Linked DNA regions of Homo sapiens. The protein of the gene in region 1 purifies or fractionates together with the protein of each later gene. This does not show direct contact. Each region holds a gene or a part of one and is shown in the gene's direction. Other genes may lie near its edges.

Region 1 (2,635 bases):
ACCTCCTGGAGCAAGGCGCGGACCCCAATATCGCAGACCGATTAGGGCGCACGGCGCTCATGCACGCTTGCGCCGGGGGTGGGGGCGCCGCGGTGGCCTCGCTGCTCCTTGCCCACGGCGCAGACCCCTCAGTCCGAGATCACGCGGGCGCCTCGGCTCTTGTCCACGCCCTGGACCGCGGGGACCGCGAGACCCTTGCCACACTGCTGGACGCCTGCAAGGCCAAGGGTACGGAGGTCATCATCATCACCACCGATACCTCGCCCTCAGGCACCAAGAAGACCCGGCAGTATCTCAATTCTCCACCATCCCCAGGGGTGGAGGACCCTGCTCCCGCCTCTCCTAGCCCGGGGTTCTGCACGTCGCCTTCGGAAATCCAACTGCAGACCGCTGGAGGAGGAGGGCGTGGGATGTTATCCCCTCGCGCCCAGGAAGAAGAGGAGAAGCGGGACGTATTTGAATTCCCTCTTCCTAAGCCCCCCGATGACCCATCCCCTTCCGAGCCGCTCCCCAAACCACCACGCCATCCCCCAAAACCACTCAAAAGGCTCAACTCCGAGCCCTGGGGCCTAGTGGCCCCTCCTCAACCAGTCCCACCCACTGAAGGGAGACCGGGGATCGAGCGCTTGACTGCCGAATTCAATGGCCTGACCCTGACCGGTCGACCCCGTCTTTCCCGACGTCACAGCACCGAAGGCCCTGAGGACCCGCCCCCATGGGCGGAGAAAGTGACTAGCGGGGGTCCTCTCTCTCGCCGAAACACAGCACCAGAAGCTCAGGAGTCTGGTCCCCCTTCAGGGCTGAGGCAGAAACTGAGCCGCATGGAGCCAGTGGAGCTGGACACCCCTGGACACCTTTGCCCTGACTCGCCTGAGTCCAGCCGCCTGTCCCTGGAGCGCCGCCGATACAGCGCCTCCCCGTTGACCCTCCCTCCAGCCGGCTCGGCTCCCTCTCCGCGCCAGTCCCAGGAGAGTCTGCCAGGGGCAGTATCTCCGCTAAGCGGAAGGAGGCGGAGTCCGGGGCTGCTGGAGCGGAGGGGCTCGGGGACGTTGCTCCTGGACCACATCTCGCAAACGCGGCCGGGTTTCCTACCCCCTCTCAACGTCAGTCCCCACCCTCCCATCCCTGACATTCGCCCACAACCCGGAGGTCGGGCGCCTTCGTTGCCTGCCCCTCCTTATGCCGGGGCGCCAGGCTCTCCCAGGACCAAGCGCAAATTGGTGAGACGCCACTCCATGCAGACTGAGCAGATCCGCCTGCTGGGGGGCTTCCAGAGTCTAGGTGGGCCTGGGGAGCCAGGGCGCTGAGAGGAGTGAGAGGAGCCAAGGAGGGTGGGGATTAGGACCTTAATGGGATAGGTGGGAGAACCAGCTCACACACACACCACGAACAAAGGGATCTCTTGCATGTGCTCATGGGTGCACAGTGCACCCACACATGGTTAAACATGTGTCCATAAGCACAGTACTCTTATTAGCAAGAAAGAATAAGTACTCTATTTACTGGGTATATACACACATGTATTCATGCCCTGGTCATTTCACATGCATATGGGATTACTTGTGTACCTACAGGCACAGCATATCAATAAACACACAGGGCTAGGGTCCCAAACTCTCTTGCATTTGTTCAGAAGCAGTAGGGAACCCTTACTTATGGGCAGTCTCCGATGTCTTTGCCCTCCTGCAGAAGCAATCCCTTGCTTTCCATGTATGCCCTGAAACACAGCCTATCATGATTTTGCACACTCTCTCCGTGGACATCCCAGCCCATTCTGCAGGTCTTGCTTCTTTCTCCAGGCCTGGCTCCTTATTCACACCCTGCTTCTAACCCCAACCACTTTTCAGGATATCTTTTTCACTCTTCTTGGGGGTTCCTGCAGCAACCCCCAGCCTCAGTTCTGCTGCTGTCTTTACTGCTCTCAACTTCACTTCTCAACTTCCTGCTTTTTATTCCCACCCTGTTCCTCCAACAACTACAACAGATTGTCTCATTTTCCCAGGGGGTGGGTCATGGGCTCTAAGCTGCTCTTCTGTCTGTCTGAGCTTATGAACACCCCCACAGGTAGAAGTGGGGAGAAACCCTAAATCACTCCTCTCTCCACTTGACATATCAAATAAATGTGTTCAGAAGTCTCTGTTTTGTCACTTCTGCCTGGAGGTGTGGGTATGGGGAATGAGGAATGGGGAGGGAGGGTAACACTAACTTATAGCTATAATTATCCAAGGGATACTTAGCTGTTCCAGCCACCTTCTTTCCAAGAAACCAACTTTTCTATAGAGAAAAGGCAAGTGTCCTGTGTCCTGAAGATTTTAAGGCATTTGACAGGATTTCATTTCCTCCAGTTTCCTCTATGTCCAACCTTGAATTCTTTAAGGTTCCTACAAAGAGTTCCTCCCTCCATCATCAGCAGATATATCCCAGTAGATTAACTGTCTCCTTTTGAAACTTCCTATTTCTTGACTACTCACAGTTTTTATTCAGGGTCTAATTTTCATTTCACCAAGTGTGTTTCTTCTATTTTCTTCTACTTCTGGCCTCTATTTCCCCATCTTTGATTTCTGAGCCACTGTAGGAGAGATGGGGGGAAGCAGTTAATATAATCTCACCTAAGCAAAAATGGCCTGGTGACCAC
Region 2 (3,500 bases), on another chromosome or scaffold:
GTGAGGAGCACTGTTATCAATCTGGAAAGGAAATATAAGCATAGCTTTACTCATTTATTTATTTATTTTTTTAATTTATTTTTGAGACAGAGTCTTGCTCTGTCACCCAGGCTGGAGTGCAGTGGCGCAATCTCGGCTCACTGCAACCTCTGCCTCCTGGGTTCAAGCAATTTTCCTGCCTCAGCCTCCCAACTAGCTGGGATTACAGGCACCCGCCACTATGCCCAGCTAATTTTTTGTATTTTTAGTAGAGACAGGGTTTCACCACGTTGGCCAGGCTGGTCTCAAACTCCTGACCTCTTGATTTGCCCGCCTCGGCCTCCCAAAGTGCTGGGATTACAGATATGAGCCACCGTGCCCAGCCATTTCTTTCTTTATTTTTTTTTTTTTAGAGACAGGGTAATGCTCTTTGACTCAGGCTGGAGTGCAGTGGCATGATCATAGCTCACTGGAGGCTCAGACTCATAGGTTCAAGTGATCCTCCCACCTAAGCCTACTGAATAGCTGAGACTACAGGCACGCACCACCATACCTGGCTAATTTTTGTATTTTTTGTAGAGACAGAGTTTTGCCATGTTGGCCAGGCTGGTCTTAAACTCCTGGGCTCAAGTGATCTGCCTACCTCAGCCTCCTGAGTCACTGAGACTGTAGTTGTGTGCCACCATGCCAGGCTAACTTTTTTTTTTTGAGACATGGTCTCTCATTCTGTAGCCTAGACTGGAGAGCAGCAGTGGACCACAGCTCACTGCAGCCTCAACCTCCCTGGGCTCCAGCGACCCCCCAGCCTCAGCTTCCCAAGTAATTGGGACTACAGGCATGCGCCACTGTGTGCCACCCAAAAAATCTTAGCATACCGCGTAGCACAAAGGGAGCGTTCAGCACATGGGAGCTATTACCAGGCGTCTTAATCCATTTTGTGCTGCTGTTACAGATTACCACAGACTGGGTAATTTATAAAGAAAAGAAGTTTATTTGGCTCACAGTTCTGGAGACTGGGAAGTCCAAGAGCATGGTGCAAGTATCTGGTGAGGGTCATCCTGTGTGAGGCAGAAGGCTCACATGGTGAGCAAGTGCATGAGACAGACAGCATGGCAGCAGAACTCATCCTTTTGCCAGGAGCCCACGCCAGAGAAAACTAACCTACTCCATGACAATGGCATTAATCCATTCATGAGAGCAGAGCTCACATGGCCCAGTCACCCCTTATACTGTTAAACAATGGCAATTCAATTTCAACATGAGTTTTGGTGGGGACATTCAAACCATAGCACCAGGATCGTTAGTAGCCACATGATAAAATGTATGTCTTCAAGATTTGAAGACAATGGCATAAGGTCAGTGATCCAGCTGCTTGTACCCCTGACTTTTTCTGACCCTAGGAGAAGGGAGCACTGGCTTTGCTTTCATCAGGCCAAAGATGCCTTTCTTTGGGAATACGTTCAGTCCGAAGAAGACACCTCCTCGGAAGTCGGCATCTCTCTCCAACCTGCATTCTGTGAGTGTCGGTACTGGGGTCGGCCGGGTGTGCAGCATGAGTTGAGTGCTGAGCGTGTCTCTGAATGGAAAGTGTGGTCCTCCAGAGGCATCAGTGCAGGAGGGCATCCTTTCCGTCCATATCATTGCTATTGCGGAAAACATTTTTGAACTCTTGTTTGGGAATGATCGTCAGAGCTTGTTTATCCAAGAACCTAAGAAGACAATCTCATTATGATATTTGACCCCAAATATCCAAATTTTTTTTTTCTTTTTTGAGATGGAGTCTCACTCCCGTCCCACAGGCTAGGGTGCAGTGGCGCGATCTTGACTCACTGCAACCTCCACCTCCCGGGTTCAAGCGATTCTCCTTCCTCAGCCTCCTGAGTAGCTGGGATTACAACTGCCCGCCACCATGCCCGGCTAATTTTTGTACTTTTAGTAGAGACAGGGTTTCACCATGTTGGCCAGGCTGGTCTCGAACTGCTGATCTCAGGTGATCCACCCGCCTTGGCCTCCCCAAGTGCTAGGATTACAGGTGTGAGCCACTGTGCCCAGCCAGTATCATCCAATTTGACTTCTACTTTATTCTGTGACCTTTTCCTACAGAGCTAGCTATGCAGACTGGCCATGTCTTCACAGAAGGCGAGTGGGGTTGAACAACAAGGCTGTGGGGGCTGAGCATTCACTACAGGTTTCAGGTCTTAAGAGTCTGTTGTCTCCTGTTCCCAGTGAAAATCATGGTGGGGGCAGCCCCACTGTGGCCAGAGCTGGGCATTCTGTGGAGCAGGCCAGGCAGAGGCTTAGGATCTCAGTTTCTGGTGCCCCTAGGCCTGAGGCTCCCTTTCCTCTCTGCCATGTGTGAGAGATGCAGATACACCTGGCGGTCCCTCTAGGACATCCTCTGTCCTAATCCCACACAGCGTAAGAGCAGCAGTGTGCTTACATGACGTCTGTCTCTGACCGTGACTTGAAGTCGGTCCTCCCCTACATTGTTTTCCACATGCTGACAGGTACTTGTAAGCCTTGGTACTTGTAAGGCCTCCACAGCGCTCCATATGGTCACTGGTGGATTTTATTAGTTCCCCGTTATTACAGGATAACCACCCAGATCTTGGGAGCAGCACAAATGACCCTTGGTGGCCTCACTCCAGCTCTCCTTCCTGCCCTTGCCCTCTGCACACCCTGTGCTGCAGCCGCCCAAGCCCCGTGTGAACCTCCTCTGCGCACGCTACTCCTTCTGCCTAGAATGTTTAATTCTAGAATCTAGAATAGATTAATTAAAGAGCTATTGATTGATACCTTTCTATGTGCCAGGCACTCTCCTAAGCACTGGGCATGCAGAAGTGGATGAAGGAGGGGAGAGAAAAACATCAAATCCCTGCTTTCATGGGGCAGATACTTTAACGGAAGGCTACAGAAAATAAGCAAATTTATATCAGATGGTGATATGTGCCAGACAGCAAAACAAAGCATAGGCCTGGGATGGGGTGTGGCTGAGCACTGGGGACTGAGCTTTCATTTTCAACAGGGTGGTCAGGAAGGCCTAACTGAGAAAGGGACATTTGAGCACTTACCTGAAGGTCTCCCTGTGTTGAGCCGCTATTGAGGGCAGAGCTGGTCATACGCATCCCTGGATACCCAGTACCGAGTCCCGAATCGGGGTGGGTGCTCAGTGAGTTGTAGAAATGAATATCTAGGCCAGGCGCAGTGGCTCATGCCTGTAATCCCAGCACTTTAGGAGGCTGAGGTGGGCGCATCACTTGAGGTCAGGAGTTTGAGACCAGCCTGGCCAATGTGGCGAAACTCTGACTCTACTTTAAAAAATACAAAAATTAGGCCGGGCACGGTGGCTCACGTCTATAATCCCAGCACTTTGGGAGGCTGAGGTGGGCGGATCACAAGGTCAGGAGTTCGAGACCAGCCTGGCCAATATGGTGAAACCCTGTCTCTACTAAAAAATACAAAAATTAGCCAGGTGTGGTGGCGTGCGCCTGTAGTCCCAGCTACTCGGGAAGCTGAGGCAG
Region 3 (3,500 bases), on another chromosome or scaffold:
AGAGCAGAGGAGAAACACCTCACTGCAGTTTCAACATGCTTTCCAAGAACAATATATACGACATATACATTTTCCTGCCTCTCTCTTGTGACAATTTCTGTTAGAATTTGTTGGGGGTCTGATGGTTAAAATCATGGGCAAGGCCATTCTCTACATCATTGCTTAATATTTCAAAAATAGGTATTAGAGCACTATCAGTGGTCCAAAATTAGTTTTAGCTACTTATTTTGCTCCATGGGTTTTGGGCTTTTCAAAGAATACTATGTATAATTTGTAATTGAAAGCCTTTCAGTAGGATATCCAAAGTTCAATGTGTTTCAAAAGGGAAAACTTTTACTTGTGGGGGTGGGAGTTAGATGTATTAAAAAAACGAAACTACAAAATCCTTTTAAGAAAGTAATACCAATTTAGACTCTAGTTTGTGTTACGAGGTATTCTTTCAAATTTTTTTTAAAAGCCAACTACTGTCATTAAGAAATAATTTTAGATTTGTGCTCTAGCAGAAAATAACTCTGTACCCATCAATCTTATTGCCAACATTCCATACCAGTGGTAGGAAAGATATTCTCATTTTTTTTATTGAACCAGACATTTTTATAAAATACTGATTGACTTTGTACATTATGGATATTATATATGAAATTTTGCCTTGTATTCTTTCACTTGAAAAAACTCCAAAATTCCACAATATTTTAGTAGTTAACTTCCTATTCTTTCTTAAATTTGATGGAGAAGGGAAAATAAATTGCAGTTATTGATTCTTGCCATCTTTGTTTTCTTAAAGAAATCTATGCATTTTAAGGATAAAACTAAAGCATATGGGTTTACATGAAACATCAGGATGGATTATTGTACATTGAATTCATTCCGCGTATAATGTGGTATTTCTTACTCTGTCCATCTTGGTAGCTGTCACTTCAAAAGAAGACAGTTTCCCTGAGTAATCATCACCTACATGGCCATTAGAGTATCTATCGGTGATAATTCCATGATACAGAGTATCTTGGCATTATAAATTCAGTATCCCAGGACCTAAACCTTTATGCTACATTTTCGAAGATTTTTTAAAAATAATATTGTTAATCAGTAAAAAAAAAAAATATTTTTGATCTAAACATAGGTTCTGCATATCTGTTAGATTTTAAAAATGACTGGTGTTTTGTCTTCACATTTTTGTCTAAGCAAGGAATATAAGATTTCAAATAAAATTTTGAACCAAAAACATTTATAATGCCGTTCTGGTTTTTCTATTACTTTTTATACTGTACTTTAAAAGCATTAGGCTGAAAGAGTTTATTTTGGTGGTCAAAAAAAATATGCTTCCACTCATGTAACTATTTTAAATGTTAAGAAGTAAAATAATGAAAGATATGTTAATTACTTTATTCAGTAAAGTTTTTTAAGAATGTTTATCTCAGCCAGTAGGCAAATACTTGGTGTAAAACAAGTTGGTCTTAAATTGTTGCAACTCATTAGCTAGTGAAGATATTCATGTAAATATATTTTAGGATTGTAATTAATTTTGAAAATGTAGAAAGCTCTTTATTCCATGTAAGTATGCAGGATGCCTGCTTTTTTATGCAGTTGTGGAAAGAATGTAAAATGTTTTAATATATTCTTTGTTAATCTGAGAACTTGATACTGAATCGTTTATGTGGGAGAAGGAAGGAGTAACATAAAACATGTTTTTATCACTCAAAGTAAGCAATGGAGGTAACAAATATTGTGCATTTTAACAGTAATATTTGAAGATTTGTAGAATATTCACCTTTAAAACTAGTTAGTATGCATTTATAATTTTACCAGAATATACAACTAACAATTCAACAGTGATGTTCTTTGCATTTGTGGGGAGATGTGTGATGTTCTTGGTTTTCTGGTTTGGAATGGAACGTTTATAGCCTTGCCTGTAAAAATGTGCCCCAGCACTTAATGAGTGACCGTTTGAATCCATATGTAGTCCCATTGGTGCTAATGAGAGTAGCTGCTGTGAAACAGGAATAAAATGTGTCTGTTCACGGAGGTGCGGTGTGGATGCACCTACAAGGCCAACTCTCTGATCAGGGTGAGGGAGAGATGGAAGAATTAACAGATCTAAAGTTGGCCTTTGTTGTCTCAAATTGGGTTTGTACACACATGCATGCATGTGTGTATACAACTGTAATCTGGAACTTCAGGAAGTAAAATTATTTGAAGTTTCTTAGTAAAAAGTAATTAGGTATAATTCCAAATAGATTTCTGTATAAATTGTATCTAACTGGATTACAAGTCAGTTTGACAATTTACGATGTCTCAGTGATGTTTCTGCAATAATTGTGAAATGCATTATTGATTTAAATAATGCTGACACGTACTCTTTAAAAGTGTTCTTTAACACTGACTACTAAACTTTAAGTTTTAAAAAATAGGTTTTCATTTATGGCTTTTTGTGGTTTTAGCACTTTAAGAAGTTTAATTTTTTGTAATTTTTAATATGCTCTTTCAGTGTATCTCAGCGGGTACTCCAGCTTGTGGCATTCCCATGTGACTGGGGAGAAGACAAAATTGGTGTTTAGATTCTGGAGGAGAAAAAATGAGTTACAATGTCAGGTGTTTTTAAAAATTCCTTTTAGAGACAGTCTTTTGGGAACCAAAGTATTTTACTGTAAATCTTTAAAATAACAGAATTCAGTGCTCTTTCATTTGTTAATGCTGTCCAGATTTTTCACACAGTTATACTCAGTTAATACTAGTTTTCAGAACATTAGTCCAAGGCTATTTCAAGTTTTCCATTGAATATATGCTTATGGTTAAAAGAAAAACGAATGGTTTTATAATTCTGTGTATTTTGTCATATGCCTTAGCAGAGTAAGTCATTTTTCCATTTTACTTAGGAATAAGCTTTTTCGAACTGAAAATTCATGGTAAAATAGGATTTCTATCTAATGTTAATCCATTGCTTATTTGTATTCAATTCCATTGTCTACAGTTTGCTTAAATGTTGACTAAGAATGATTGGAGTCAATAAATTTGTACTGTATTTTGCTTCGAGTCAGTCTCAATGGTATGCCCTGTACTTTGATAGTAACCGGGTGTAGCATTTACATTTGTGAAAGTAAAGTTAAAATCTTCCTATTTGGGTAATGTGAATAGCTGTGAGAGATTTAATTTTCCCCCGTTCCAGGTTGCTTATAGAATTAAGGTTGTATTAAAGCTTTAGTTATTTGGGCATCGCAAATACGATGATTAAAACCAGATAGGCAACCATCTTTGCTCATCTGCCATTTCCTTTACTATTCGAACTGGTAGTTTTTAAGTTGATGGGGCAGGGGGGTAAATGCAGAAAAATAACATTTTTAAGTACCCTGCATTGATATTTCTGCATAGCAGTTGATAAACCAGTTTTATTTGATAATCTAAAGAATTTAATGTCATAGCTTTTTTTTTTCATTCTAATGAGGTTTTTCTGTAAAACCGGGGTATATCATTTTTAAAAATTTTATTAGCTCTCCCTGTAACGT
Region 4 (3,500 bases), about 60 Mb from region 1:
TGAGAAAATGTGTTGTGTGGTACTTGGCATAAAGCCAGGAATATACTAAGTGCTCAGTAAATGATAACTGGCATTGCAGTTGCTGTGAGAGGGTGTTTGATCTGGATAAAGCAGAACAGACAGATCCCCAGAATGCCAGGCCGGTAAAAGGAGCTTTTGGAAGCTTTTCCTCTTCCCTATTTTATATCTGAAAGGTAACAGAAAGCATAGGCTACTCCATAGGCTGCACTGCCCTCTTCGGGGTTCCTGACCAGCCCAGAAAGGCTTTGCCCTTGGGGCCTGAGAGTGGTGGTGTTGTTTCCCATCTACTCAGTATTATGAGGTGACTAAGTGATAGAAATCACCTGGCCAATATTAAAGAGAAATGATTACAAATGATAATGAATAGAAATAAATAATACATGATGGATAGACATTAAGTTATTTCAATAAGAGGAAATGTTGGCTCAGTTCACATATTGCTTTCCTGTGCTTTGGAGTGGTCTTTAATCTGTGTTTGCTGAACCAAACACTTCTGGATTTTTCCCTTAGGGGTGTGAGGATATTGCTTCATGGGGGAGAGCTCCAGCTGAGTCTGTTAGTCTGTAAAGCAGAGAAATGACCCCCTTGGCTTGACCTCTGGGGGTGGGGGTGGGCGATGTCTTGCAGGTGATGAAGACATATCACATGTACAATGCCGACAGCATCAGTGCTCAGAGCAAACTAAAGGAGGCGGAGAAGCAGGAGGAGAAGCAAATTGGTAAATCGGTAAAGCAGGAGGACCGGCAGACCCCACGCTCCCCTGACTCCACGGCCAACGTTCGCATTGAGGAGAAACATGTCCGGAGGAGCTCAGTGAAGAAGATTGAGAAGATGAAGGAGAAGGTATGTAGGCTCCCACAGCTGTAGATGCTGGGAAGCAACATTCGGTAAGGCATGGCTGATAGGAATTTCCCAGTAGTCACTGGGAAGAGCAGACGAGGAAGCTCTGGGTTCTTTTAGTGCCTAATGACTGAAAATGAGGCCTTGCTCTGTGCCCTGGCAGGAATACTAGGTATTGGAAGAACTGGGCACGTGGGATCCAAGTTTCTAGCCTCTAGCAGAAAACCAAGAAACAGCAGTCACCTTTCCCAATCCATTTTCCAAATAGAGCTCAATATCCTATTGCTTTGGAGGGGTTGGGGGTGACTGTAAACCCAGGATTTGGTTTCAGGTATCAGGTGTTCAGGGGCAAGAGTAGTGGTACCTCCTTCAGAGTGGCATTGCAAGAATGAAGAATGATATTTGAAGATAGAATCAAAGTGGGGCACGCATCTTAAGTAGGGAGCCTCATTAACCTTTCCTGAATTGATCTACATTGTGCCCTTGAATCTCATTAAACAGAATTAGAACCCAATTTAAGGCAGATGCGCATAGGGAGTAGCAACACAATTGTAGTTCTTGAATACACTGTACTTTTATCTTTTAGAGAACAAGCCCCCCTTAAAAAAAAAAAGGTAAAAGTGAACTTCTGTTTCCTTTTCAGCGTCAAGCCAAGTACACGGAGAATAAGCTGAAGGCCATCAAAGCCCGGAATGAGTACTTGCTGGCTTTGGAGGCAACCAATGCATCTGTCTTCAAGTACTACATCCATGACCTATCTGACCTTATTGATGTAAGTGCTTAAAGCCAAGGGCCTGAGGGCACCTCTTTTCTGGTTTCAGAATACTCGTCAGACATTCCCCGATACTATTGTTCAGGAATCTGGTGCATTTTGAGAACAATTAGGAAGATAGCAGCCATGATCCATCAGGGTGCTTGCCAAGCACCAAGTGAAACACTTCACACTTATTCAATCCTAACTGGAATTCTGGGAGGAAGGCATTATTATCTATATTTTTACAGATTAACAGAGAGTTTAGATGACTTAGTCAGAGTCAGTTAACAAATGACAGAGGCAAAATTTGCACCTAGGCCTGATGACTCAACCCAGGCTCATAACCACTACACTCGTCTATCTGCCAGGAAATACTTTCTTCCTTTTTTTTTTTTTTTTTTTTTTTTTTGAGATAGAGTCTTGCTCTGTCCCCCAGGCTGGAGTGCAGTGGTGCAATCTTGGCTCACTGCAACCTCCATCTCCCAGGTTCAAGCAATTGTCCTACCTCAGCCTCCCCAGTAACTGGGACTACAGGCATGCATCACCATGCCCAGCTAATTTTTGTATTTTTAGTAGAGATGGGGTTTCACCATGTTAGTGAAGCTGATCTGGAACTCCTCACCTCAGGTGACCTGACCTCAGGTGATCCACCTGCCTCGACTTCCCAAAGTGCTAGGATTACAGGTGTGGGCCCTGCACCCGACCTAGGAAATACTTTATTACATCAGCTTCTCTTGCACAGAAGTGAGTGGCAAGAACTTAACTAAAGAGTTACAATGCCATCCCTTATATTTGTATAGCATTTAAGGTTTCTCAGTGTTAACTCATTTGACTCTCACATCACCATTATGGGTAAGCATTGCTGTCTCCAGTTGCTAGATAAGGAAGCTCAAGGTCCAGAGGACTACGAGACTCACTTGTCCAAGGTTATGCTGCAAATTAGGGTCCTGTCAGGAAGGTATCCAGCTCCCCCTGACATCTGGCCCATTTTTTAAAATATGTGATGCAAAGGGGATTGAGGAAAGCGGCTAATAGGCACATGTGTTTTGCAAGGGGCAAGCGCAGGGATAAGCTTTTTGTTTTTTGCCTGTGAGTTATTCTTGGCCTTGTTTTTCCTGCTGCTTCCCCTTACAGTTGGGTCTTACAAGCCCTCTCACCTACAGACTCCAATCTGGCCCAGGTCCTGAGCCACACCTAAGTGAAGCTATGTAATTACACCCTTTCTCACCTCTCCTTCCAGTCATCAAAGTGAGGCATCTGGAGCCAGCCAATTTAGCATCCCAGTCTCTGGGGCTTCAAGTGTATCTCATCTCGGAGGCCTGCCATTTGTTTCAGGGTCTTGTTGGCAGCAGTTGGGCTTTGCAAAACTCTGGCCCGACCACTCTTGCTTTCCTGCCTTGGTTTCTCCACAAGCAAACCTGCCACACCTCACAACATCATATGGGATTTGGGTCCGAGTCTTGCTGTTATATCACCACCTGGGTCATCTAGGCTTGTCACTGAATTGTTCTGAAACCCAGCTTTGTTTCTCACCCACTCCCAAGCTCCTCTAGCTAACTGAAGAACTGGACTAATTCCCTGGTATTAAAATCTGGCCTCACGTAAGAGTTGCTTGGGGAACTTCTCTAAAATACAGATTCCTGTCTCCCTTTAGCCGAGGATTTTTGATTCAGTAGATTTCAGCCACTTAATGCCCTAGGTGTCATTGTCTCACTGGGTTAGTAGAGCCTTGCTCCCTGTTCTGGTACCTCTTTGTTCTCTCTGCTTATTGATGACAATCTGAACACTGTCCTTCAATGGAGGTCAGAGCCCTAAACAAGATCCTTTCTCCTCCTCAGGGGAAGAGCTCCTCATTGTTGGGAGAGAGGCCTGTTCTCAGCATAAG

The links. The genes of interacting proteins can lie anywhere in the genome.
Region 2: the proteins of ANKRD34A (region 1) and CBY1 purify together in Homo sapiens (affinity purification with mass spectrometry, with the first as the bait; one large-scale study listed by BioGRID). This does not show direct contact.
Region 3: the proteins of ANKRD34A (region 1) and ZBTB21 purify together in Homo sapiens (affinity purification with mass spectrometry, with the first as the bait; one large-scale study listed by BioGRID). This does not show direct contact.
Region 4: the proteins of ANKRD34A (region 1) and SRGAP2 purify together in Homo sapiens (affinity purification with mass spectrometry, with the first as the bait; one large-scale study listed by BioGRID). This does not show direct contact.

The regions. Positions count from the first base shown.
Region 1 is NC_000001.11:145,958,941-145,961,575, reverse strand, and holds the end of ANKRD34A (ankyrin repeat domain-containing protein 34A), read left to right. Parts: coding exon 1-1,307; 3' UTR 1,308-2,135; downstream 2,136-2,635.
Region 2 is NC_000022.11:38,666,638-38,670,137, forward strand, and holds part of CBY1 (protein chibby homolog 1), read left to right. Parts: intron 1-1,379; 5' UTR 1,380-1,417; coding exon 1,418-1,495; intron 1,496-3,500. UniProt on the Homo sapiens protein: Inhibits the Wnt/Wingless pathway by binding to CTNNB1/beta-catenin and inhibiting beta-catenin-mediated transcriptional activation through competition with TCF/LEF transcription factors.
Region 3 is NC_000021.9:41,986,361-41,989,860, reverse strand, and holds the end of ZBTB21 (zinc finger and BTB domain-containing protein 21), read left to right. Parts: 3' UTR 1-3,030; downstream 3,031-3,500. UniProt on the Homo sapiens protein: Acts as a transcription repressor.
Region 4 is NC_000001.11:206,392,041-206,395,540, forward strand, and holds part of SRGAP2 (SLIT-ROBO Rho GTPase-activating protein 2), read left to right. Parts: intron 1-648; coding exon 649-864; intron 865-1,504; coding exon 1,505-1,633; intron 1,634-3,500. UniProt on the Homo sapiens protein: Postsynaptic RAC1 GTPase activating protein (GAP) that plays a key role in neuronal morphogenesis and migration mainly during development of the cerebral cortex. Regulates excitatory and inhibitory synapse maturation and density in cortical pyramidal neurons.